7 linked regions of the Homo sapiens genome follow. The protein of the gene in region 1 purifies or fractionates together with the protein of each later gene. This does not show direct contact. Each region holds a gene or a part of one and is shown in the gene's direction. Other genes may lie near its edges. The genes, in order: SLC2A9, SLC67A2, SLC25A46, ARFGEF3, FLVCR1, DOP1B and MON2.

Evidence for each region.
Region 2: the proteins of SLC2A9 (region 1) and SLC67A2 purify together in Homo sapiens (affinity purification with mass spectrometry; one large-scale study listed by BioGRID and IntAct). This does not show direct contact.
Region 3: the proteins of SLC2A9 (region 1) and SLC25A46 purify together in Homo sapiens (affinity purification with mass spectrometry; one large-scale study listed by BioGRID and IntAct). This does not show direct contact.
Region 4: the proteins of SLC2A9 (region 1) and ARFGEF3 purify together in Homo sapiens (affinity purification with mass spectrometry; one large-scale study listed by BioGRID and IntAct). This does not show direct contact.
Region 5: the proteins of SLC2A9 (region 1) and FLVCR1 purify together in Homo sapiens (affinity purification with mass spectrometry; one large-scale study listed by BioGRID and IntAct). This does not show direct contact.
Region 6: the proteins of SLC2A9 (region 1) and DOP1B purify together in Homo sapiens (affinity purification with mass spectrometry; one large-scale study listed by BioGRID and IntAct). This does not show direct contact.
Region 7: the proteins of SLC2A9 (region 1) and MON2 purify together in Homo sapiens (affinity purification with mass spectrometry; one large-scale study listed by BioGRID and IntAct). This does not show direct contact.

Annotation. Positions count from the first base shown.
Region 1 is NC_000004.12:9,825,724-9,829,497, reverse strand, and holds the end of SLC2A9 (solute carrier family 2, facilitated glucose transporter member 9), read left to right. Parts: intron 1-2,897; coding exon 2,898-3,101; 3' UTR 3,102-3,274; downstream 3,275-3,774. UniProt on the Homo sapiens protein: High-capacity urate transporter, which may play a role in the urate reabsorption by proximal tubules. May have a residual high-affinity, low-capacity glucose and fructose transporter activity. Transports urate at rates 45- to 60-fold faster than glucose.
Region 2 is NC_000002.12:102,719,889-102,723,388, reverse strand, and holds part of SLC67A2 (major facilitator superfamily domain-containing protein 9), read left to right. Parts: intron 1-3,500.
Region 3 is NC_000005.10:110,745,507-110,749,006, forward strand, and holds part of SLC25A46 (mitochondrial outer membrane protein SLC25A46), read left to right. Parts: intron 1-762; coding exon 763-840; intron 841-2,656; coding exon 2,657-2,757; intron 2,758-3,500. UniProt on the Homo sapiens protein: Transmembrane protein of the mitochondrial outer membrane that controls mitochondrial organization.
Region 4 is NC_000006.12:138,342,551-138,345,163, forward strand, and holds the end of ARFGEF3 (brefeldin A-inhibited guanine nucleotide-exchange protein 3), read left to right. Parts: 3' UTR 1-2,113; downstream 2,114-2,613. UniProt on the Homo sapiens protein: Participates in the regulation of systemic glucose homeostasis, where it negatively regulates insulin granule biogenesis in pancreatic islet beta cells. Also regulates glucagon granule production in pancreatic alpha cells.
Region 5 is NC_000001.11:212,889,275-212,892,774, forward strand, and holds part of FLVCR1 (choline/ethanolamine transporter FLVCR1), read left to right. Parts: intron 1-3,500.
Region 6 is NC_000021.9:36,233,324-36,236,823, forward strand, and holds part of DOP1B (protein DOP1B), read left to right. Parts: intron 1-3,500.
Region 7 is NC_000012.12:62,532,826-62,536,325, forward strand, and holds part of MON2 (protein MON2 homolog), read left to right. Parts: intron 1-2,019; coding exon 2,020-2,101; intron 2,102-2,699; coding exon 2,700-2,884; intron 2,885-3,500. UniProt on the Homo sapiens protein: Plays a role in regulating membrane trafficking of cargo proteins. Together with ATP9A and DOP1B, regulates SNX3 retromer-mediated endosomal sorting of WLS away from lysosomal degradation.

The DNA of each region.
Region 1 (3,774 bases):
TGTTGCTCTTCTTTTTTTTTTTTTTTGACATTTTTGTCATGAAATCTTTGCCCGTGACTATGTCCCGAATGGTATTGCCTAGATTTTCTTCTAGGGTTTTTATAGTTTTGGGTTTTACATTTAAGTCTTTAAGCATCTTGAGTTAATTTTTGTATAAGGTGTAAGGAGGGGGTCCAGTTTTAATCTTTACCTCAGTCTCTCAAGTAGCTGGGATAACAGGCGACTGCCACCACGCCTAGCTAATTTTTGTAATTTTAGTAGAGATGGGGTTTCACAATGTTGGCCGGGCTGGTCCTGAACTTCTGACCTCAAGTGATCCACCCACCTCAGCCTCCCAAAGTGCTGGGATTACAGGTGTGAGCTACTGTGCTCGGCTGAGCCACATGTTCTTGACTGAATTTTGTGAAACTGTGAGAATAATCCTCACGACACCCATCAGGTCCCTTGGGAAAAGAAAGCCAAGCAAGAGGCAGCTGTGTGGGTGTCAGAGAGGTCCTAGGAAGCCCTGTTTGTGGCCTGGGATACGGCAGGAAGCCTCTCTGAGCCTCAGTCCATCCATCCACTCACTAAGATACTCAGAGCATCTACTGTATATCAGAGACTCTCCGGGCTCTGGGAATACAAGAAAAATGATGACTCCTGCCTTCAGATAGTTACCTCTTGGTAGGGAGAAGGTTAATAAACAGGCAGTTGCACACTATAATGCTGCATAGTGATGAGTGTTTTTGAAGGCAATGAAGCAGGGCTGGGAGGGGCTATTTCAAAATGAGAGTCAACGAGAACCTCTCTGAGAAAATGACCTTTAAGTCGGATGAAGAGGAGTAAGAAAGCAGGATATACAGAGGCCTAAACGAAGATTATTCCAGCAAGAGAGAACAGCATGTGCAAAGATTCTGAGGCCTAATACTGGAGGGAAATCATAAAGGCAGTGGAGTTGGGGCAAAGAAAGTGAGGAGAGTAAGATCAGAGAAATAAGAGGGACACATGGTCGGTGGCCTTGGAGGCCATGGTGAGGACTTTGGCTTTCCTGCAGGTGACTTAGGAAGTCATGGTGGGTTTTGAGCAGAGGAGTGACAAGTTTTGTCCTTTGTTTAACAGGATCACTCTGGCTTGTCTGTTAAGAATAATCTTAAGATTATGCTTAAAGTGAAAAGCAGGGAAATCAGTTGACAAGCTATTGCAAAAATCCAAGCAAAACATGATGGTGGCTTGCACCAAAATTAGGTTACAATAGAAGTGATGACAAACCCTCAGATTTGGAATACATTTCAAGGTGGAGCAACATGATTTCCTGATGGAGCAGATGTGGGTGGGAGAGAGAGAGAGAAGCTCAGCCTGCCTCCAAGTGTTTTTGTTGGCATAATCAATCAGAAGGATGGAGGTGCCATCAGCAGAGATGAGGAAGGCTAGAGCAGGCAGTTTTAGAGGCTCCACTTTGGACTTGATAAGTCAGATGTCCATTCCGCCTGCAGATGGGGGTGTGGAGGATGTTGAATGCAAAATTGATATATCTCATTTCATCTTCAAAACAATGTGTGGGTATATATCACCATGTTGCAAATGAGGAAACAGATGCTCAGTGGATTGAAATTCTATCTTAAATGGCACATCATAAGTGTTAGAACAACATGTGAGTAATGGGATCAGGATTTGAATCCCACTCGACTGGCTTCAGAGCCCATACTCTCCCCCTTCTCCACACTACTCTTGAAGTCTTTGTACGAGCAGAAGGCACAGTCTCAAGAGCTAAGCACCCCCAGGTGTGGAACATTTACTGCATGTGGCACTTTAAAGGGAATGTCTCATTTAATTCATACAACAACCCTACATGTACCATGATTATCCTCTTTTTCAATCATGGAAACTGAGGGACAAAGAGTCTCAGATTTAGTAAATGGTAGATCTAGGATGTGATCCAGGGATCAAGCTTAAGCACTTTGCCATTCTCCAAAAATAAATGTTTGTCAAATCAAAGAATAGAATGGAATTGACTAAAATCTGGATATTGCTTCTTGGGAAATATTATTCAAAGACAGTGTCACCTTATCTTTGGATCAGTAGATGTTTGTTGCATATAATAGTCACAATCCTGACAGCTGGGACCCAGAAAGTCTTTTATTTCTGGAATGGTGGCTCATGCCTATAATCCCAGTACCTGGGAGACCAAAGCAAGCAGATTGATTGAGGCTAGGATTTCAAGTCTTTTATTCCACAAATATGTCCTGAGTACCTCCTATAAGGCACAGGAGCTACAGAGGTGACTGAGTCACTGAGAAGCTCAAGGTCTAGTGCAGTTGGCAGGGTTATTCTAGTCCAAACACTAATCAGGATACATAAAACGGAGTGATTGCATTGAGCATTTCTATTTTTTCTGATCTCTCTTATTTGTGCAAGGCCGCCTCAGAGTATCAATTAGTGAGTTAGATCATTTGCATATTAGAAAAAACTGGCATTACCTTGGCCTATTCTGTGCTCCACATTCTTCCTATGAACTAAGGCATTTCTCTTCCCTTTTGATGTCATTCTTGTCTCATGTGTATAGTAGAAGCAAGAAGACAATGTGGTTAATTGTAAATATAAGCTTAAGCTAATATTCAGCAAGCATTCCATTTTGCTTTCGTGATGATTAATTTTTAAATGCCAAATTTGCAACAACAACAACAAAAAAGTGCCATTTTCTCATCTTTCCCAGAGTTTGAAGCTGATTTATTCAAGCCTTATGTGATAACACTTCATGTAGGGTACACTTGCCTTATTGAGCCAGCATCACACATGGTGTTTTGTCTAGGAGTATTGGTATATGAATGTGGAGCTATCTTAAAAATCTGTGTAGAGATGGTTTAACAGCAAGTTTACTGATTATCTATTTGAGGGTTTTTGTCTCTGCCTTTCCACAGAAAAGTCTGGACACCTACTGTTTCCTAGTCTTTGCTACAATTTGTATCACAGGTGCTATCTACCTGTATTTTGTGCTGCCTGAGACCAAAAACAGAACCTATGCAGAAATCAGCCAGGCATTTTCCAAAAGGAACAAAGCATACCCACCAGAAGAGAAAATCGACTCAGCTGTCACTGATGGTAAGATAAATGGAAGGCCTTAACAAGTTTCCTCCTCCACGTTGGACAATTATGTCAAAAACAGGATTGTCTACATGGATGATCTCACTTTTCAGGAAACTTAAAATTTACCCATTATTGGGAAGCTTAAATGAATTGAAGCTATGCAAGTCTTTTATATTATTAAATATTTAAAAGTAAACCTGTACTAATCTAACATTGCAACTGTGTTAGCATTATTCACAACTGAATCTCCCAAACCCTTCTGGAAGCTGCAAGGAATCACTCTATGTTTCAGTAGACCCAGCGTTCTTCTATATAGGTAGATGACCTGCCTTCTTCATGACTCAACCCATGATTTCAAAATGAAATTGGGGAAATAGTAGGTTAATGCTTTATCAAAGAAAAATCAATTTGGTCTGATAGGGGACTCAACGGATTAGAGATCACAGACTGAGGTTCTAGTCCCAGCTTTACCACAAGCAGCCTTGACCTGCCCTCAACCTGGATCCCAGTGCCTCAATGACCCTAGGCTTCCATCCCTGATATAGGCTTTCAGAAGTCAGTGGAAAGATTATTCATAGTGCCTAAGAAATGCCTGTTTCCAATATTTGACCTTGTGGATCTCAGGCTTTGGAGAGCCTAATACCAACACACCAGCCTGCAGATTTTGTCTTTCCCAAACTGTGTTCCAGGAATGGGCTCAAAACTTCAGGG
Region 2 (3,500 bases), on another chromosome or scaffold:
CAAGCGATTCTCCTGCCTCAGCCTCCTGAGTAGCTGGGATTACAGGCATATGCCACCATACCCGGTTAATTTTGTATTTTTAGTAGAGACGGGGTTTCTTCATGTTGGTCAGGTTGGTCTCGAACTCCTGACCTCATGCGATCCGCCGCCTCTGCCTCCCAAAGTGCTGGGATTACAGGCGCGAGCCACTGCGCCCAGCCCAAGAGTTCTCTTTTCTCCACATCCTCATTAACACTTATCTTTTAAAAATATGTCTGTATTAGCCCTCCTAACATGTGCGAGGTGATTTTTCGTTGTGGTTTTGATTTGAATTTCCCTGATGATTAGTGACATTGAACACCTTTTGTTTTTCCATCAGCCACTCCTTGGAGAAATGTCTATTCAGATTTTTTGCCCATTTTTAAACTTGGTGTTTTTTTGTTTTTGTTTTTGTTTTTTTTGCTGTTGAGTTGAAGGAGTACCTTGTATAGTTTGGATATTAACTCTTTATCAGATGTATGATTTGCAAATCGTATCCACTGTGCAGGTTACTTTTTGCTTTGCAGATTGTTTCCAGGTTGCTTTTTCACTTTGCTGATTTGTTTCCATTGCTGTGCAGAAGCTTTTTCGTTTCAGGTAGTTCCACTTGTCTATTTTTGGATTGGTTTTGTTGTTATACCTAAGAAATTATTGCCAAGGTCAATTTCAAGAAGCTTCTACCTTCTTTTACAGTTTCAGGTCTTATGTTTGTCTTTAATCCATTTTGAGTTGATTTTTATCTTTAATCTATTTAAGTTGATTTTTGTAATGTGATGTGAGGAAGGGATTAATTTTATTCTTCTGCATGATACATATTTTAGTTGCAATTTAAAAGGGAAATATTTTATTTTTAATGTATTTAATATAAATTTAAATACAATTATGGAAGTAAGAAAGAAGACTATGCAATCTCCTGCTACAGACCCCCAGTTGTTTCTATCATGGTAATGCACATGCCTCACAGCTGGCACAGTGGTAGGTGATGGGCAGACCCTGCCCCTCTCTCTGCCTTCCTCCATACATTCTGGCCATGCTGGCTTTCTGGTCTACCATATGTATGCCAGGCTCATTCCCATAGGAGGGCATTGTACCAGGCCTGTCTTCTACCTGCCACATTCATCCCACATCTGTTATTGGCTCTCTCTTTTCAGCATTCAAGACTGAAATATCTGCTTCCTTAGGCCTTCTCTGACCATTCTGCCTAAAAGAGCTTAATTTTCTTCATAGCATTCTTGAAATTATGTTATTAGTTTGTTTTACTGCTTACGTTCTCTTTGTTCCCCCAAATCAGTAGGCAGACTCCATGAGGGAAGAGATTTTGTCAGATTTACTCACTGCTATCACCCCTGTGCAGAATACACATTGGGCCGGGTGCAGTGGCTCATGCCTGCAATCCCAGCACTCTGGGAGGCTGAAGCGCGAGGATTGCTTGAGCCCAGGAGTTCAAGACCAGCCTGGGAAAGATAGTGAGACCCTGTCTACAAAAAATTTTTTTTTAATTATCCAGGCATGGTGACACATACCTGTAGTCCCAGATCCTCGAGAGGCTGAGGCAGGAGGATTGTTTGAGCCCAGGAGGTCAAAACTACAGTGAGCCGTGATCACACCACGGCATTCCAGCCTGGGTGACAGAGTGAGATCCTGTCTCAAATAAAGACATACATATATACATACAGACACACACACAGACACACACACACACACACACACACAGGACTATGAGCTCCTTGGATGCAGGGCTGGTTGCTTAAAATGTCTTTCTTCTTCTTCACTTAGAGAGTGGTGCATGGCTGGCCCTTGGATAAATGACTTCATAAACGAGAATTCATGCTAGGCAGTTTTCCTTACATTTAATGATATTGTACTTTACTGCAGCTTTTTGAATCTTCATATTCAAGGTTCTCTTTTGCATGATGATTTCCTTATTGGGTTAGGATGTCAGACCCAGGAAGCAAAGTTCATGAGCTTATTCTCAGTCCTCACAGAAATACATTATGATTTGTTGCCAGGAATTTACTTAGCCTGTAACTTGAATCAGGAGGGGTGCACATAAACCTAGATAAAAATCTCAAACACATGCCTCGTTGATGTGACCAGGTATCTTCACATATAAAGGAAGGTACATGAATGTGGTATCACTCAAAATTGAAAGTCAGCATATAACAAAGGAATTGGTTATGGAATTCTATTTTGGATCCTTCAACAATAGTGCCATTTAATATGTTGCCCTATCTTAAGCCTATAAATGGGTCTAAGCAGTTAGGAAAACATTCCGCTGCAAGTGTTCCCAACTACAATGGCTTCAAGGAAGAGGGACTTGTTTTTCCAACATAAGAAACTTGAGGATAGGCAGGCTGGGGCCAATAGAATAGCAGAGGAGGAGAGGGAGGATGACCTGGCTAGACAGCACATACTGTCCCACCCAGGGCTTTGGCCATTCAGTGCAGTGAACATATCATCATGCTGCTTTCTCATTCCAGTCTTGCCATCCTTTACCCCTGAATGACTATAGCTGTTTTCGTCAACGCTTTTACTCCGTTAGCTTCTTATATCCTCCTCTGATCCGCCACTTTGCCTGAGAAAGCCTTTTCATTGTGATTTCTGTTCATATGGTTAGGAACTCCAAACTCTGGAATCTGACAGACTCAGGTTCAAATCCCTGCTTTGCCAGTTTTTAGTGTGACCCTTGGGCAAATTGTCTTCCATTTTTTCATCTATAAAATGGGGTAACAAAACACATAGCCTTGTTATGAGAACTGTAAGAGGTTCTGCATACAAGCAGCTTACCCCAGAGCCTGAGGTAGGATTGCATAGACCTTGTCTTGTTTGTTAATATTTTCTTAGCGTTTCACACTTACGAACTCCATGAATATTGGAAGGTTGGACAGATGGATGGGTAGGTGGGTGGATTGCTTATAGTAAGCACTCAACAGAAGTTAGTTGCCATCATCATCATCATTTTTATTATTTTAATTCTACTTTTTTAGTTCATCAGCAATAATTCTTTCACATCTTTATCAATATTCTGTGTAATGTTCAAGGGCCCTTTTAAGATTGAATTATTAAAAGTCCACATCCTCCACATTCTCATGTGGTTGGTTTTCCGTTGTAAATTTGTCTATGGCTGAAGCACTTATACAATATTTGGAGAAATGACACACAAATGAAGTTGCTGAAAACAACATGAAGCAGCACTGAATAGCCACTGGTCTGAGTTGAACTTTTAAGTGCTCTTTAGCACTTAAAAAACAGTAGGATAGAGTTTGGAGGGATGTCCTAGAATGGCAAGTTTGAATTCAGTTTTAAGAACACTTTTGGGCATGGATTGGCAAGAGATCAACAGGCAAGAATGTGCTAGTCCTATGAGGACAGAGGTGGGATCATCTGAGTGGCGGTTAGAGCCACTGCGTAAGGTTGTATATGTTGTGGTCTATGAGAATGGTGCCCCCTGAGGTTTTGCAGGTGTGACCTGCACAAGCACT
Region 3 (3,500 bases), on another chromosome or scaffold:
CCTCCCAAAGTGGTGGGATTACAGGTGTGAGCCACTGCGCCCGTCCTGTTATAACCCACTTTCTCTGTAAAGTAATGCTTCCTGTATTTGTTAGCTGTTAGAGTTCAAAACAGTATAAATCATTATAAATTAATCTGTTCATGCTTAGCACTGAAAAGTATGTATACAGAAATACCATTAAAGTAGCATTGACTGTATGTGCCACAGAACAGTGTATTTCAGATATATATTTTACATTGTAGTAATATTAACATGGAGATCCAATGGATACATTACATATAAGTAACAAATATATTATTTTTAAATGTTTTATGAAATAATACCATTAGAATGTAATACATTCTAATATTTTATTGTTTCACATAATAAATATTGTTTTGACACTCCCCCAGTTGATTTCATATACCAGTCAGTTGCCAAGTACAGTTTGAAAAATGCTTGCCTAAAATGAACATGAGTTGGGAGATGTAATTCAGTTGTTTAAGGCAAACCAAATATCAAATAAGACCCTCTTTATTATATAGTCTACAGTACTGTGTGTATTATGCATTGGTCTTCAGATTGTATTTATATAACCATACATACTGTACTTTTAATAGGTTATTTAAAGCACTTTTAAGAGTAATTTTGCTTATGTGTAATTTATGTTGACTTTGGAATTAACTTTTGTTTATACTGCAATTCCACCATATTTCTTTCATGGCTCTGTTATTTCTTGACAAAACATTAACAGAAAAAAATAATGAAATATCTTTTTTACAGGTTAATTACCATGCTCAGCATTACCATCTCACTCCATTTACAGTCATCAATATTATGTACAGTTTCAACAAAACTCAGGTGAGAATTTTGTCTGGATTCTATTAAAGGTTTATATAAGTGTCATTTGGGTTTAGTAATCATTAAAGCAAGAATAATTACTTTCAGTTTGGTCAATAAAACATCTTAACTGTTGTAGTAAAACTAAAGTAGCACAACGATATGTTTTTGAATCTTTCAAAATGTAATTTAGCAAAAGTACAATTTAATTTAGCAAAACCACAAAGAGCTGTGCTAAGATGATGTCTCTGCTATCAAGAGGCTCATATTTATTCATGGAGACAAAATCTTTGAAGATTGTGCTGCAGTAAGATAAAGGCAATATTAGAAGTACAGAATGCTGTCAGAATACAAAAGAGAAGTACCTTATCAAAACTGGGCTTGGGCACAGTGTATGGCTGGGAAAAACTTTGGGAAAAGAAAGGCCCGAATTGTGTGCTTCTTGTTGAGAAGTCTGACTCTTCATGATGAGGATAGAGAAAAGGTTTTTAAAGTAGACGTGTGAAGGCAGAAGACAAAGAGAGATCATAATGTTTGGGAATGGATTTAATGGAGTACAATGGGAGCTTGAAGTGGGGGTTGAAGAGTAAGAGAAAGATGAAAAAGTAGCCAGAGAAGTAAGCAGGATCCAGATTCTAAAGCACCTTCTAAGAACTGCACACTACTAGATCTTAAAAGCTACAAGAGTACTGTTGAAGGTGTTTTAGCCATGACCAAAATATCTTGAAGACCTTTGGATTGTTTGGCAATATCTATTAAAATTTAAAATGTACATGTTCTTTCACTTCCAGGAACTTATCCCACATAGATGTGCACATATATATGCAAAAATATATATACAAGGATGTCCTATGACATTGCATATAATAGACTGGAAATGATTAAATGTCCATCACTAGGGTACCAGTGAAATAATTATGGTATATTATGGTGAAACACCTTGTAACCTTTAAAAATAAGAGGGTAGCTCTGTGTATACTAATGTGGAATGATCTCCAGGATATTTTTTATGTTTCAAGATAATACTACCTGTTAAAAATAAGCAAAACAAAAATATTTCTATAACATACACACACAGATATACTTGTATATGCATGGATTATCCCGATAAATTTTAAAACTGCTGCTGAGGACTGGGATGAAAAGGAGACAGACTTTTCAGCTGATACCCTATTGCTTCTTTTTAATTCTATCATGTATATCTATTAATAATATAGATAATATAGATAAATAATAGGAGTATTACTGATGGTATCATGCAAAGGGGCAAAACCAGAGACAGTGAAACTTGTAGTCAAATTGATATAAAGTAATAGTGTTAAGTATGGAGAAGAGCATGGATTTGTAAGATACTAAGGGAGTAGAATTTGTAGAACCTGGGGACTGATTAGATAGGAAGAGTGAGATAAAAATGTTTTCTAGATATATTGTTTGGACACTAGGATGATGAAGCTGCTATCTAGGGAAATAGGAAATACAGCAGAGAAGGAAAGAATTGGTGTGGTATGAGTGAGTATGATTGGGTTAAGTTGTGGATATGTAAGTTTCAAGTTACCTTGTGTCATCCACAGGACAGGACTAGTAGGGAGTTGAATATATAGATATTAGGGATATTTAATAAATTAGTTAATCATTAGGGGTTTTAATTAATAGGAATGTTCTTCTTGGCCTAAGTATAACTTTAAAATGATATAAAATTAATTGTAGTTCTCTACTAATATTTCTATTAGAATAATGTTTTATTGGAAAATGTCTACACAATATCAAGTTTTATTAAGATCTTTTGTGTTTCAGATGTAGGTATTAACAGAAATAACATGAATTTTGTTCAATTTAGGGACCTAGAGCCCTGTGGAAAGGAATGGGAAGTACATTTATTGTCCAGGGAGTCACACTTGGAGCAGAAGGCATAATTAGTGAATTTACACCTTTGCCAAGGTACCATTTTTAGCATTTCTTCAGTATTAGTTTCATGTGGTGATGTGTTTTTAGATGCAGGCGGTACATGTGCAGGCTTGTTACATGGGTATATTGTGTGATGCTAAAGTTTGGACTTCTAATGATCCTCTCATCCAACAATTCTCAATTGTGTAAACATCATACCCAATAGGTAGCTTTCAACCCTTGTCCCCATCCCTCCCCTATTATATTGTTTTAATAATAAATAAAAAATACCTTGAATCTGAAAACTTGTCTGAAGTAACTAAAAGAAAAAACAAAGAATAAAATTAATTATATATTATTAAATTAGTATGTGATAAAGAAAATGTGTCTTGGCTTAGTATCTATTGAGATGTATCTTTCAGCTTCTACTGCTATGTGCCAGCAACTGCCAGCTGAGGAACAAATGTGGGTATGTGAGCAATTCCCGCTCTTTAAGTATTCATTTAATGAAGGAGACACATGTAAGCAAGAAGAGGTAACATGTCCAATGTCACGGGGTTGGACAGTCTAGGTAATAAAAGAAGTGTCTTATGTTTGGAATATTGGGTATGTATGAAATTGAATATCAGGAAAAGAAGCTGAGGTGCTACATTAAAATACGATTGTGCCTTTTTAAGTTTATTCTCTATGGGTTTGGAATGTGTTTCTTTTTTTAATATATAGATGTTCTGATCAAGATATATTCAAATGGCAGTATAAAATAAATGGAGTTGTATAGACAGATTTATGGAGATCTA
Region 4 (2,613 bases), on another chromosome or scaffold:
TTTAGAAACATTGATTCTATGGATGATCATTTGTATCATGTTGACCCTTTGACTTGTACTGAAGGTGATTTTAAATTTAAGTATGTAGTGTTTGAATTTCTTCCATCCATGTCGTTTTAATGAGATGTTTCCATGTCAGCTCCTTTACAGCCTTGGCTCCTGGCTTACAGATTTTTGAATAGTTGTTTGCTTGCCAGTTGTTTTACATCTTTCATTGGCCACCAAAATATTAGCCATTTGAGATGAGATGAGACTACTTGTTGTACCTTCATCTTTCATTTAATTTTCTGGCGTAAATTAACATTTTAATTTCATATATATCTGTAAAGAGTCTACCCAAAGGCTTCACGGAAATTTGCAAAATGAACTAATTCCCTTTTAAGCAGCAGGTGTGCCTGTTTTTGACTTTTCAGTAAATATGTTGTTTGTGCACATATCTACATGGTGGAGACCATATTCATTATTTCATCTTCCAAATAATGGGAAAAATATAAAAGTGAATCAGTGTGCTTTGGGAATTCAGTGAAATCATGTTAACTCATATAGAGGGGGCCTTAGTTTATCTCTTCTTTACTGAATTAATTAGTTTTGGAAATTCTTTTACCATTAAAAAAAATTAAGGACCATACAGAGAATGATTTAAGAAAAAACAAGTCACTTAAAAATCATCACCTATTTATAAACTGTATTAATTACACATAATGCTTATTGATTCAATGAGGTTTCTCTAAAGACTTCTGCTTAATAAATATGCTGACTTCATTTAAATTAGTTTAGACTATTGTAGGAATGGAAGGAAATGATTATATTTACTAGAATTAGTGAGATCAGAAAGCATATCAGAATGTTGATGATATCAAGGAGACAATCTACAGAGTTTTTGCCTCTGTGGATGGAAATAAGGGTGTTTTTTTTTGGTTTTTTTTTTACTTTAGTTTCCCATAATTTTTGGAAATTATGTGTGCATTTAGTTCTTTTAGTAACACTGATTTTAAAATTAAATTTCAAAAGTCAATCTCTAAGAGTAATTTATTTTTGTTTTACCAACCAGTGCCAAAAAGGAGAGGAGGGAATCCAAAAGCCAATCTTTTGAACCAATGTGTAAAAGATTATGTTTTTTCTTAAAGTTAGGGAGGCTCGGGCCCTGACACTGCCAGCCCCAGTGAGCATCCCTGGCTACCTCGGGATTATGTGCAAGCTGCTTTGTCCTACATTTCTTTCATCTGGTTCTTATTGGGAGTGCTTCTCTCTAATAAAAATTGATTTCCCACAAAATAGGCAAAGCTGAACAAAGATGAATGCTTTTGATAAGTTGGGTTTCACTTCAGTTGAAACAATGTGATAGAATATCCAGGTGTGGCATGATGGGGCAGGAGGAGGTGCCTAGAGGGAAAAGTTATTTTTGTTTCTTAGTGTTGTGTTGTGGGGATGGGACAGATAAGAATAAGATGTTTATTGCCCTAATCATGCTAAGAGACTATTATTCAATATGCTTTTCCCGCTTTTCTAAGAGGAATAAACTTAGACAAATTACATTATAAACAGTTCCCCTACTACTATCTCCCACTCTAGATAAAGCCAGTGGGTGGTATGGGTCCTTTTATTCCTTATAGTATTATGCCAAAGAATCAACTTATTTTCATTGAAGATTATAAATAAATGAAGCTTGTTATAGCCATAATGATTTGAGTCAGTATACCATTTTACCTATAAAATGCAAAATTCATCCTTGCAACCCCATTCACCAGGAGCCTTGAAGCATTTTGTTTACTCCAAAGGCCTTGTCAAGGAAGCATAATTTTTTGTTTTGCCTTCTTATTTAGTCAGTTTGGTCATATTTACTTAAAAAAACAAACTGAAAATCACACTCCTTTATATGTTGATATAACTGATTTTATAGAATCTGTCTGTTCTTTGTTTAACAGGTCTCTGTAAGCAAGCTTGCAAGTGTATTTTGTGTACATTTTATCTGAGGTGGAAATGAAAATTCTAAAGAGAAAATATTTTAAAAGATATTGTATTTATGTTGCTTGTGTTGTAGAATAAAGATTCAAATGCATTAAAAATCTGGTACATGAAACAATTGTGTTTACTGAATAAATATATATAAATATCCTGTGTTTACAGAATTCTGTCAAAAGAATTAGGCCCCTTTTCATGGCATTTCATAAGTCTAAATGTAAAGGCCCATTTTAAATCCTGTAACATGGAGATAGTCATTATTGACAATTTGGTATATGCCTAAAAAACAAATTTGTAGAAATAATATATCATTTCCTTGTTTAAAAAAAGGGCTTATTCTATGATATTATCTTTTACTCATAAGAACTTATATCAAATTCCTACTGTCAGTAGATATTGATGTAGATCATTCATTTAAAAAATTAAAGTATTACCTTTTGTTCATAAACAACCAAAAATCCAATTAATAAGAATATTAGTATTTAAAAGTAATATTAAAAAATACAGCCACTTTTAACTTCCTGATCTTACTAGATTATTGTTTTAAATACACATATATCAAAATATCACACTATACCCCATAAATATGTACAATTAATGTAATTAGTGATGTCAATTAAAAACAAAATTTTTTGCATGGTGGCTCATACC
Region 5 (3,500 bases), on another chromosome or scaffold:
CCTGGCAAAAGGACTTGTGTCATGTGTTAATTTTCATATATATTGCTTCTCAATAGCTTGACAGAACTCAAGGGGAAAAAAATGAGATAAAAAGCAGGACATTATTTGTTTTCTTCTAAAGACATGAATCTCTTACTTCATTTTGCAGATTTCAAATTCAATACAGTTACTCTGCATAGCAAGCAAAACTGTTATAATAAGAGTAGTAAAGGCTGGGTGTGTTGGCTCATGCCTGTAATCCCAGCACTTTGGGAGGCAGAGGCGGGCAGATTACTTGAGGTGAGGAGTTTGAGACCAGCCTAGCCAACATGGCGAAACCCCGTCTCTACTAAAATTAGCCAGTTGTGGTGGCGCACACGTGTAGCCCCAGCTACTTGGGAGGCTGAGGCAGGAAAATTGCTTGAACCCAGGAGACAGAGGTTGCAGTGAGCCAAGATCACACGAGTGCACTCTAGCTTGGGCAACAGCGAGACTCTGTCTCAAAAAAAAAAAAAAAAAAGAGTAGTAAAGACCTGGAGTTGGGAAGACCTGGCCTCAAATTCCGATTCTGTTGCTCAGTGGGAGTGTGACTTTAGACCCGTTGCTTAACCTCTCAAATCCTCCTTTCCTTATTTATATAATAGAGTGTTAAAGCCTGCTTTATAGGGTTACTGTGAGGATTAATTGAAATGGTTCATGAAAAGTTCCTAGTGTCTGGCACCTGGGACGTGCCTAACATGTGTTACTATTGTTATAATGTGGTAGAGATGGTAAGCAGTCAAGTGGTAGTGGTGGAAATAGTATGTGGAATCCTTAGCTAGTGCTTATACTTCTTAGGTATAGTCATCATAGACATGGGCAGGAAAGAAAATAGTGCTCAATCTCCAGAGAAAGAGAATGTCAGAGAATTTTTATCCATAGTTTGCCCATGCACATGGGTGTACAATAGATTTGGAAGCAGAACTTTTTCCAGGTGCATACTTTTAAAATGTCATCATTCCCTAAACATTATAGTATAACAGCTATTTACATTGTATTAGGTATTAGTAATCTAGAGATGGTTTAAGTACATAGGAGGATGTGTGTACGTTATATGTAAATACTTCCCAGGGGCGTCCAATCTTTTGGCTTCTCTGGACCACATTGGAACAAGAAATATCTTGGGCCACACATGAAATACTCTAATACTAATGATAGCTAATGAGCTAAAAAAAAAAAATTGCAAAAAATCTCATAATGTTTTTTAAAAATTTGTGAGTTTGTGTTAGGCCACATTCAAAACTGTCCTGGGCCACATATGGGCTGCAGACCACAGGTTGAACAAGCTTATACTACACCATTTCATATAAAGGCCTTGAGCATTCGTGGATTTTGGTATCTGAGGTGGGGTCTTGGAATCAATCCCCCGCAGATACCAAGGGAGGTTGTGCTTCGTTGATCTGGTTATAACTTAGTTGGAGGATCTGGTTATAACTTAGTTGGAGAATCTATCAGAAGGATGTGAATCAGAATTTCTTCTACTGTTTGTGGAATACCTGATCATTCTTTGTGAAACCTTCAATATGAAATCTCACCAGTGATAGACATTTTGGATATACACAACTACCTAAGGTCGCTCACTCAATTGTATGAATGATAGGAACCTGAGCATTCATTCACGAAGCTAAAAGAAAGTGAATGCACTCTGTTTCCTCAAAGAAAAACATCTTATCACAGGGAGTTTTTCCCCCTGTCCAGTTAGTAAAATAAAACATACAAAACTGTGAAATATGTAATACATTAACTGCTTTAACTATTGTTCTTTCATAAGTAATTCCATGTTGGTTCTTAATTCCTAGGCAAGTACTATATCTTATCTAAGATTATTACTATTGGCTGGACGTGGTGGCTCATACTTGTATTCCTAGCACTTTGGGAGGCTGATACAGGTGGATCATTTGATGTCAGGAGTTCAAGACCAGCCTGACCAACATAGTGAAACCGTGTCTCTACTAAAAATACAAAAAACTTTAGCCAGTTTTATGGGCACACACCTGTAATCTCAGCTACTTGGGAGGCTGAGGCAGAAGAATTGCTTGAATCTGGGAGGCTGAGGCAGAAGAATTGCTTGAATCCGGGAGGCGGAGGTTGCAGTGAGTGGTGAAGATCACACCACCACTCCAGCCTGGGTGACAAAGTGAGACTCCGTCTCAAAAAAAAAAACAGTATTATTGTTATACCAAAGAAGGGAGCAGTTTTGTAATCCTCCTTCAAATTACTTTTACAAGAGATTCATGAATACTAATTCAAACAAATCAAGTCTAGAAAATTAAGAAGTGAAAATAGATCTTTAAAATTAGTTTTACATTGATGCTTTTACCATCTCAAATGGTATTCCCTGAGGCACAACAATATTGAAATCAGGGCCCTGATTAATACCCCCAAATTATTACCCCTACAGTGGCCTCCAGGTGTTTAAGCAAAAGGAAGAGTAGTAAATCTCTCCTCTTAAATCAGAAGCTAAAAATGATTAAGCTTAGTGAACAAGTCATGTCAAAAGCCCAGATAGGCCAAAAGCTAGTCCTTTTGCACCAAACAATTAGCCAAGTTGCTAATGCAAAGGAAAAATTCTTAAGGGAAATTAAGAATGCTACTCCAGTGAACACAAATGATAAAACAGCCTATTGATATGGAGAAAGTTTGAGTGGTCTTGTTAGAAGATCATACCAGCCACAACATCGCCGTAAGCCAAAGCCTAATCTAGAGCAAGGCCCTAACTGTCCAATTCTGTGAACGTTGAAAGAGGTGAGAAAGTTGCGGAAGAAAAGCTGGAAACTAGCAGAGGTCAGTTCATGAGGTAAGGAAAGAAGTTGTCTTCATAACATAAAAGTGCAAGGTGAAGCAGCAAGTGCTGATGTAGATGCTGAAGTAGGTTATCCAGAAGATCTAGCTAAGATGATTGATGAAGGTGGCTACAATAAACCACAAATTTTCCATGTAGATGAAACAGGCTTATACTGGAAGAAGATGCCATCTAGGACTGCCATAGCTAGAGAGGAGGAATCAATGTCTGGCTTCAAAGGACAAGCTCATTCTCTTGTGAGGGGTTGATGCAGCTGGTGACTTCACATTGAAACTAATGCTTGTTGACCATTCTGAAAATCCTAGGGCCCTTAAGAATTAGGCCAAATTTTCTCTGCCTAAGCTCTAACAATGGAACAATGAACCTGAACCCCGTAGTTGATAGTACATCTGTTAGTAGCATGGTTTGCTGAATATTTTAAACCCATTGTTGAAGCCTGCTACTGAGAAAAACATTCCTTTCAAAATACTACTGCTCATTGACCAATTCACCTGTTTACCCAAGAGCTCTGATGAAGATGTACGAGGAGATCAATGTTGCTTTCATGTCTGGAAACACAGCATCCCTTCTGCAGCCCGTGGATCAAGGAGTAATTTCAACTTTCAAGTCTTATTCTTTAAGAAATACACTTCAAAAGGCTGTAGCTGCCAGAAATAATTATTCCTCTCTTGGATCTGAG
Region 6 (3,500 bases), on another chromosome or scaffold:
CTGGGAGTGGGGTCTGGGTGGAGGCAGGGAGCCCATGACTCCTCCACTGCACTCACCTGGATTTAGCCTCTGCCACATCCAGCAGAGGGGTGGGAAGGTGACGTGCTGGTGGCCTGCCCCTCCCAGGAGGTGCAAAAGCCCTTGACTGGGAGCTGGGGAAAGAGAGCACCCTTTTGCTTGGCCACATGCACCAGAGTGGATAGTGACGTTTCCATGGAGCTAAGCTGGGGAAGGAAGGAGATGATGAGCAGGTCATGGCTCAAGTGCCATGACTCTTGCTGCTTTGACCGAAATGTCGTAGGTTTTCCGGAATAAATGTTTCTTTATTTCCTGAATGTCCTTTGGATAATTTCCAGACTCTAAATGGTTGGTTGTTGTTGGTTTTAAAATAATTTTCACCAGTTATGGTTGTGTTGCTTGGGAGAGGGTCTGTCTGTGGAACTCCTCACACCGCTCAGCTTTGGTTCCATGTGGGACACCATCTACGGTGTCAGGTCCTGGGGGAGCTTTTACTTAATTGCTCATTGACTTTTTTTGTTGTTGTTGTTGAGACGGAGTCCCGCTCTGTCACCCAGGCTGGAGTGCAGTGGCACGATCTCGGCTCACTGCAACCTCTGCCTCCCATGTTCAAGCAATTCTCCTGCCTCAGCCTCCCGAGTAGCTGGGACTACAGGCACCTGCCACCACACCTGGCTAATTTTTGTATTTTTAGTAGAGATGGGGTTTTACCGCATTGGCCAGGCTGGTCTCAAACTCCTGACCTCAGGAGTTTGGGAGGCCCGCCTCAGCCTCCCAAAGTGCCAGAATTATAGGTGTGAGCCACCGTGCCCAGCTGCTTATTGACTTTTGTACCACATTTCTTCTTCCTGCTAGAGTTGAGTCACATTAGATCTTGAATAGACAGAACTTGAAACCAGGACTGGAACCGCTATAAGCAGCAGTGATTAAGCAAGTGTCATCTTGGCCCTACATAGATCAGAGATCAGAAAATTTGGCATATTTACACTATATATAGGCACAGGGGAGAAAAAAGAAGAAAGAATTGAGATCATGAATCTTTGGAAAGGTACTCATAGAATAAAAGTGGCAGCATTAAATACATTCCTTTTATTTTGGGGCAGTGAGGGAAGCTTTTCCAAGTTCTTACTGAAGCCTTGATTTTTACTTTCATTTTCATGTAGTACATATTCAAGTACTTACCATTTGCCTGGCACTAGAGCATACTTTTCTTTTTTTTTTTTCCTTGAGACAGAGTCTTGCTCTGTTGCCCAGGCTGGAGTGCAATGGCATGATCTTGGCCTCTGCCTCCTGAATTCAAGCGATTCCCCTGCCTCAGCTTCCCTGGTAGCTGGGACTACAGATGTGCGCCCTCACACCTGGCTAATTTTTGTATTTTTAGTAGAGACGGGGTTTTACCATATTGGCCACGCTGGTCTCAAACTCCTGACTTCAAGTGATCCTCCCACCTCAGCCTCCCAAAGTGCCTTACAGGCGTGAGCCACCGCACCCGGCCAAGAGCATACTTTTTTTATTGACATGTAATATTGTATATATATATGGGTACAATTTGATATTCTGACACATTTATACATTGTATGATGATCAAATCATGGTAATTAGCATACCCATCACCTTAAGCATTTATCATTTCTTTGTTGTGAAAACATTCAGAACCCTCTCTTCTAGCAATTTGAAATACACAATGCATTATTGTTAGCAGTAGTCACCCTACTGTGCAGTAGAGTACCAAGATTTATTCCTTGGAGCACACTTTTATGTACTGTACAGTTCTTGAGAGTTGAGGACAGCGGCAGCTAGTGCCTGTCCCTGTTGCAGATGCTGGAACTAGAGACACAGCAACCTTACCCATAGCCAGGACGTGCCCCCAATTCTCAGACTCCAGACAGGGCTGTTGTCTGATCTTTCAGCCTTTTTTTAATCCTGCGGGAACAGCTCACATACCAGAGTTCCTGCTTCCCACAGTGCAAACAAGAAAAGGTCAGATAGCCCAAGGGTGCCCTGACCTTTCTTATCAGGTAGTGTTGGCAGATTTCAGATAACTAAGACAACACCCAGAACAGAGGAGTAGAGTAAGGTTTAAACATGTGAAGGAAGGCCCGGCTCGGTGGCTCACGCCTGTAATCCCAGCATCCAGCACTTTAGGAGGCTGAGGGCTGCTTGCTTGAGCTCAGGAGTTCGAGACCAGTCTGGCCAACACGGCAAAATCCCATGTCTAAAAAAAAAAAATACAAAAATTAACCTGGCATGGTGGCACACACCTGTAGTCCCAGCTACTTGGGAGGCTGAGGTGGGAGGATCACTTGAGCCAAGGAGGCAGAGGTTGCAGTGAGTTGACATCGTGCCACTGCACTCCAGCCTGGGGCACATAGTGAGACCCTGCCTCAAAAAAATATATATGAGGGAGTAGGTATGGATTTGTGATCGGCATCAACTCTCAAAAACCTTGCAAAAAAATTTTTTAAACCTTCCGGAAGGGAGTCTCTTGCATATATATTTGCCATAGTGACAGCAAGGAAGTCGGGGGGGGGGCGGTCTACGTAGTCAAAAAGTTATATATCAGAATTCAATTGTAATGTGATTGTTGGAAATCACTTTCCCTTAGAGAAAAAGTAACAAAATAATGGTTAGGAGTTTGAGCCAGTCAGTGGTTAACTTGATCTATGCAGAGAAAGACGGTTTTGTTGAGTAGAAATAAATGGGCCAAAGAAGTTATTTGATCTAAGTTATGCCTAAAATACTCCAGTCTATGAGATATAAACTTCATATAGTCTATGAAGTATAAGAATGTCTTTAGAAATTTAGAAATTTCCCTCCCGGAAGTGGGGACCAGCCCTCCTTCTGGGTCTCACCCTTGTTGGGGCAGGCACACTGGCTCCTGCTCCCTGCCACTTGGCAAGGGGCTGTAGCCCTTTGCAGACCATGCATGTTTAATGAGCTCAGTTCAGGGCTGGGAAGATGGAGGACACGATTTGGGGGTATAATAGTGTTTTGAAAGTGAGGCAGGCACCTGCCACAGCGTTGTGCAGGGAAAAGGGAAGAGTCAAGTTAGTGGAATTAAAGCTGGTAGGCGTGGCTCTTTATCCATGCTGCGTGGTAACCAATTCGAGCAGACCCCAGAGGTGACCAAGTGCTGTGGAGCTGAACCCCAGAATGAGTGATCTTGACAACCACTGTAAATTCACCAAACTCCCCAGAGGGTACATCTGTGCATTCCCCAGTGCCTGCTCGGCACCTGCCTGTTGAAAGAATGCTTCAACCCCTTTGGTCCAGTTTCCAGTTAATTCTCTTTCTGAAAGTAATGTTGAGGTTGAGGCAAGAGCTGCAGTGTTCTTAGTCGGCCAGAAACCTCCAGGTTTGACCTCCTATAACATTGCCTGCTGCCTGGATGACTTTGGTGGGTTTTTCCTTTTTTTCTTTTTTCTTTTTCTTTTTCTTTTTTTTTTTTTTTTTGAGACAGAGTCTCACTCTATTGCCCAGGC
Region 7 (3,500 bases), on another chromosome or scaffold:
ATACTTTTTTCTGACCTATTTATAGAAAAAGTTGCAGACATGATGCCGTATTACTACCCTTTAATGCATCAGTGTGTATTTTTTCAAAATAAGGTTAGTCTCCTGTGTATCATAGTACAATCACCATCAGAAATTTAACATCAATACAATATTATCATCTAACTCCAGGTCTCATTCAAATTTTGCCAGTTGCCCTAGTGATGTCCTTTTATGTGTTGAATTTAGTTGCCATGTCTCAACTTGGAAGTTTCTTAGTTTTTCCTTGTTTTATATGACCTTACTTTTTTGAGTACAAGTCAGTCAGTTTGAGTTTGTGTTGTGTTCCTTCATAATTACATTCAGCTTATTCATTTTTGACAGGACTGGCACAGAAATGTTGCTGTGCTGTACTTACTGTATCATTACATTAGGAAGCATACTACAGTATCAATTTGTGTCATTATTGGAGATGCTCACTTCTATGAGTTGGTTAATACAATGTCAGCCTGGTTTCTTCAGTGTACAGTTAATTATTAACTTTTTGTGGAAAAATACTTTCAGATTGCTACTACAAAAGAGTGCTTTCCCTTCTGCATTTTTTTATTTTTTAAAAATTATTCACTTATATTAGTGTAGATTCATGGATTCCTATTTTATTCAGAGGATTATAGTCTTTATTATTATTTGGTTTGATGCTCAGATTGTTCCCAACATGGCCAATGGGACCTCTTTCAAGATGACCCGTGTGTCCTTTGGACATGTCCCATGCCCTTTTGACATTCTCTGAGCACTTCCTATTTGATAGAACAAGATGTTCCAGGCTGATCTTGGATGATTCTTGTCCATCCCAGGTGTCAGTCATTTCTCCAGGAAGTCCTGGTTCCTTTTAGTGGAGAATAGTATTGAAACGAACACAGGTATACTAGGTATGCTTTTCACCACTTGGATAGGAAATACATAGCCACATACACACACCCCCACACACAAGCACACGTCTCTGTACATTTCTAAAATGTCTGTTTCTCTATATTGAATTACCATGACATCACACTAGTTTCTTCAGTTCCAGTTCAGTACCACAAGGTTTATTTTTAACTTTCTGTATTTGTAATTCCCTTCTCCAACAGTGTTGGAACCTGCTCACATTTTGCTCAGTGTATTTACTTATTTGCTTGATTCTCAGTGTATGTAATCAGTCTCCTGGCTGAGCCAGTTTGTTACACTGCGCCCTGCCCTCACTCCAACTGGTCACACAGGCTGAGAAAGTTTGGGTTGATGAAGGCAAAGGGAAAGGAAAGGATATCAGCTGGGCATAGTGGCATGTGCCTATAATCCCAGCTACCTGGGAGGCTGAGGCAGGAGGATTGCTTGTGCCCAGGAGTTTGAGTCCAGTCTGAGTAACATAACAAGACCCTGTCTCTTAAAAAAAAAAATGGCTGGGCGTGGTGGCTCACGCCTGTAATCCCAGTAGTTTGGGAGGCCGAGGTGGGTGGATCACGAGGTCAGGAGTTTGAGACCAGCCTGACCAACATGGTGAAACCCTGTCTTTACTAAAAATACAAAAATTAGCCAGGTGTGGTGGCGTGTGTCTGTAATCCCAGCTACTCAGGAGGCTAAGGCAGGAAAATCTCTTGAACCCAGGAGGCGAAGGTTGCAGTGAGCCAAGATCATGCCACTGCACTCCAGCCTGGGCAACAGAGCAAGACTCCATCGCAAAAAAAAAAAAAAAAAAAAAAAAATATATATATATATATATATATATATTTTATATATATATATAAAATTTAACGTGTACAGAAAGATCTTACCATAGATATTTTACAACAACTTATTTTTAAGACTTCTTCAAGCCTGAAACTATAGTACGGCTTCTGAGTTTTCGTTCTTTTAGATTTTTAAATACTGAATATTAGATTTAATAATTAAGTTGTTAATGGAATATTTGACATATTGTCTGGGAAAATTTTAGAATTTCACATATTAATACATATTGTGCTATCTATAATTAAAATTAAATATTGTATGTTTTTTTCCTTTAAGTTAGTAGGGCTGTTTGGGAAGAAATGGTGAATGCCTGCTGGTGTGGTCTTCTTGCTGCACTCTCACTCCTTCTTGATGCCAGGTATTAAGTCTTTGTAAGTTTTATATTGAACTGTGTCAGTTAAAAAAAACACATTAAAATGGTTTACTTACATTTGTCCCTAGAATTATTTTCTAATATTAGTTTTTTATATGTGTGAAACATTATTCTTTTTCCCTCATCCCCCTTCCTCATTCTGTCCTTGCCCTGCCCCAAGCCACCAGAATTGTCATGATGTTTTAATGGAAAATACAGTCCTAAAATTACAGAATGCCTTTTTCATTTCAAGACTTACAACTACTTTTGCAATTATGATTATATTTAATTTCTTTGTTCTTTTTCTTTAGGATTTAAAAATTTACTGGTTTCAAAATGCTTGATATTTTAAGCTAAATCTTTATGTTCTTGGTCATTTTCTTCAGTAATAAATACATGTATTATTATTCATTGCTTTTACCCAGTTCAAATTTTTGAGGTTATGTTAATAGATTAAAATTCCTTCTTAAGTATATTGGTAATATTTTGACAATATTTTTGTATAGATTTTCTTAAAATGTCACTGAATACTTAATTCCACATCATGCTTTACAATGTAATTAAAAATAAGTTAATCAGATTAAATAAAATACTTTCTTTTCAGCACAGATGAAGCTGCCACTGAGAATATTTTAAAAGCTGAACTGACTATGGCTGCTCTTTGTGGAAGACTGGGCCTTGTAACTTCAAGAGATGCCTTTATAACTGCAATATGCAAAGGTTCCCTGCCTCCCCATTATGCTCTTACTGTATTGAATACCACCACTGCAGCTACACTTTCCAACAAATGTAAGACAGGCTTACTCAAAATTCTCTCTATGTAGTGGGATGATATGGTGTAGACAGAAGATTATAAACATCTGAGTTTAAGTCTCTGCTTTTTCACATACTGACTGTGTGACCTTGGGGAAATTAATGTCCCTGAGAGCTCTTTAAAAATATGGGGTGGGGGGTGGGGGGTGGGCATGGGATATCCAAAAATCCAGAATCTAAAATGCTGCAAAATCTAAAACTTGTTGAGCACCAACATGACAAAGGAAAGGCTCATTGGATAAGTATATAATGTGAATAGGTATATAATGCAAACATAAGTATTTACAAATATATTATGCAAATAAATGCATAAGTATATATAATATAAATATTCAAAAATCTGAAATCGGAAACAGTTGTGATCCTAAGCATTTCGGATAAGGGATACTCAACTTGTAATACCAATTTTAAACAATAATTGTGAGAGGAAAATAAGATAAATCTGGAAGTCCTTTGTAAACTATGAGATACCATTGAAATGGTGATTGTTATTTTTTTTTAATGGAACTAGTAGAACAGTAATGTTTGTAACCACTTAGGTTAAACTTACATTCAAAAATTTATTTTCTTGTTGAATTCTTTAAGAATACTT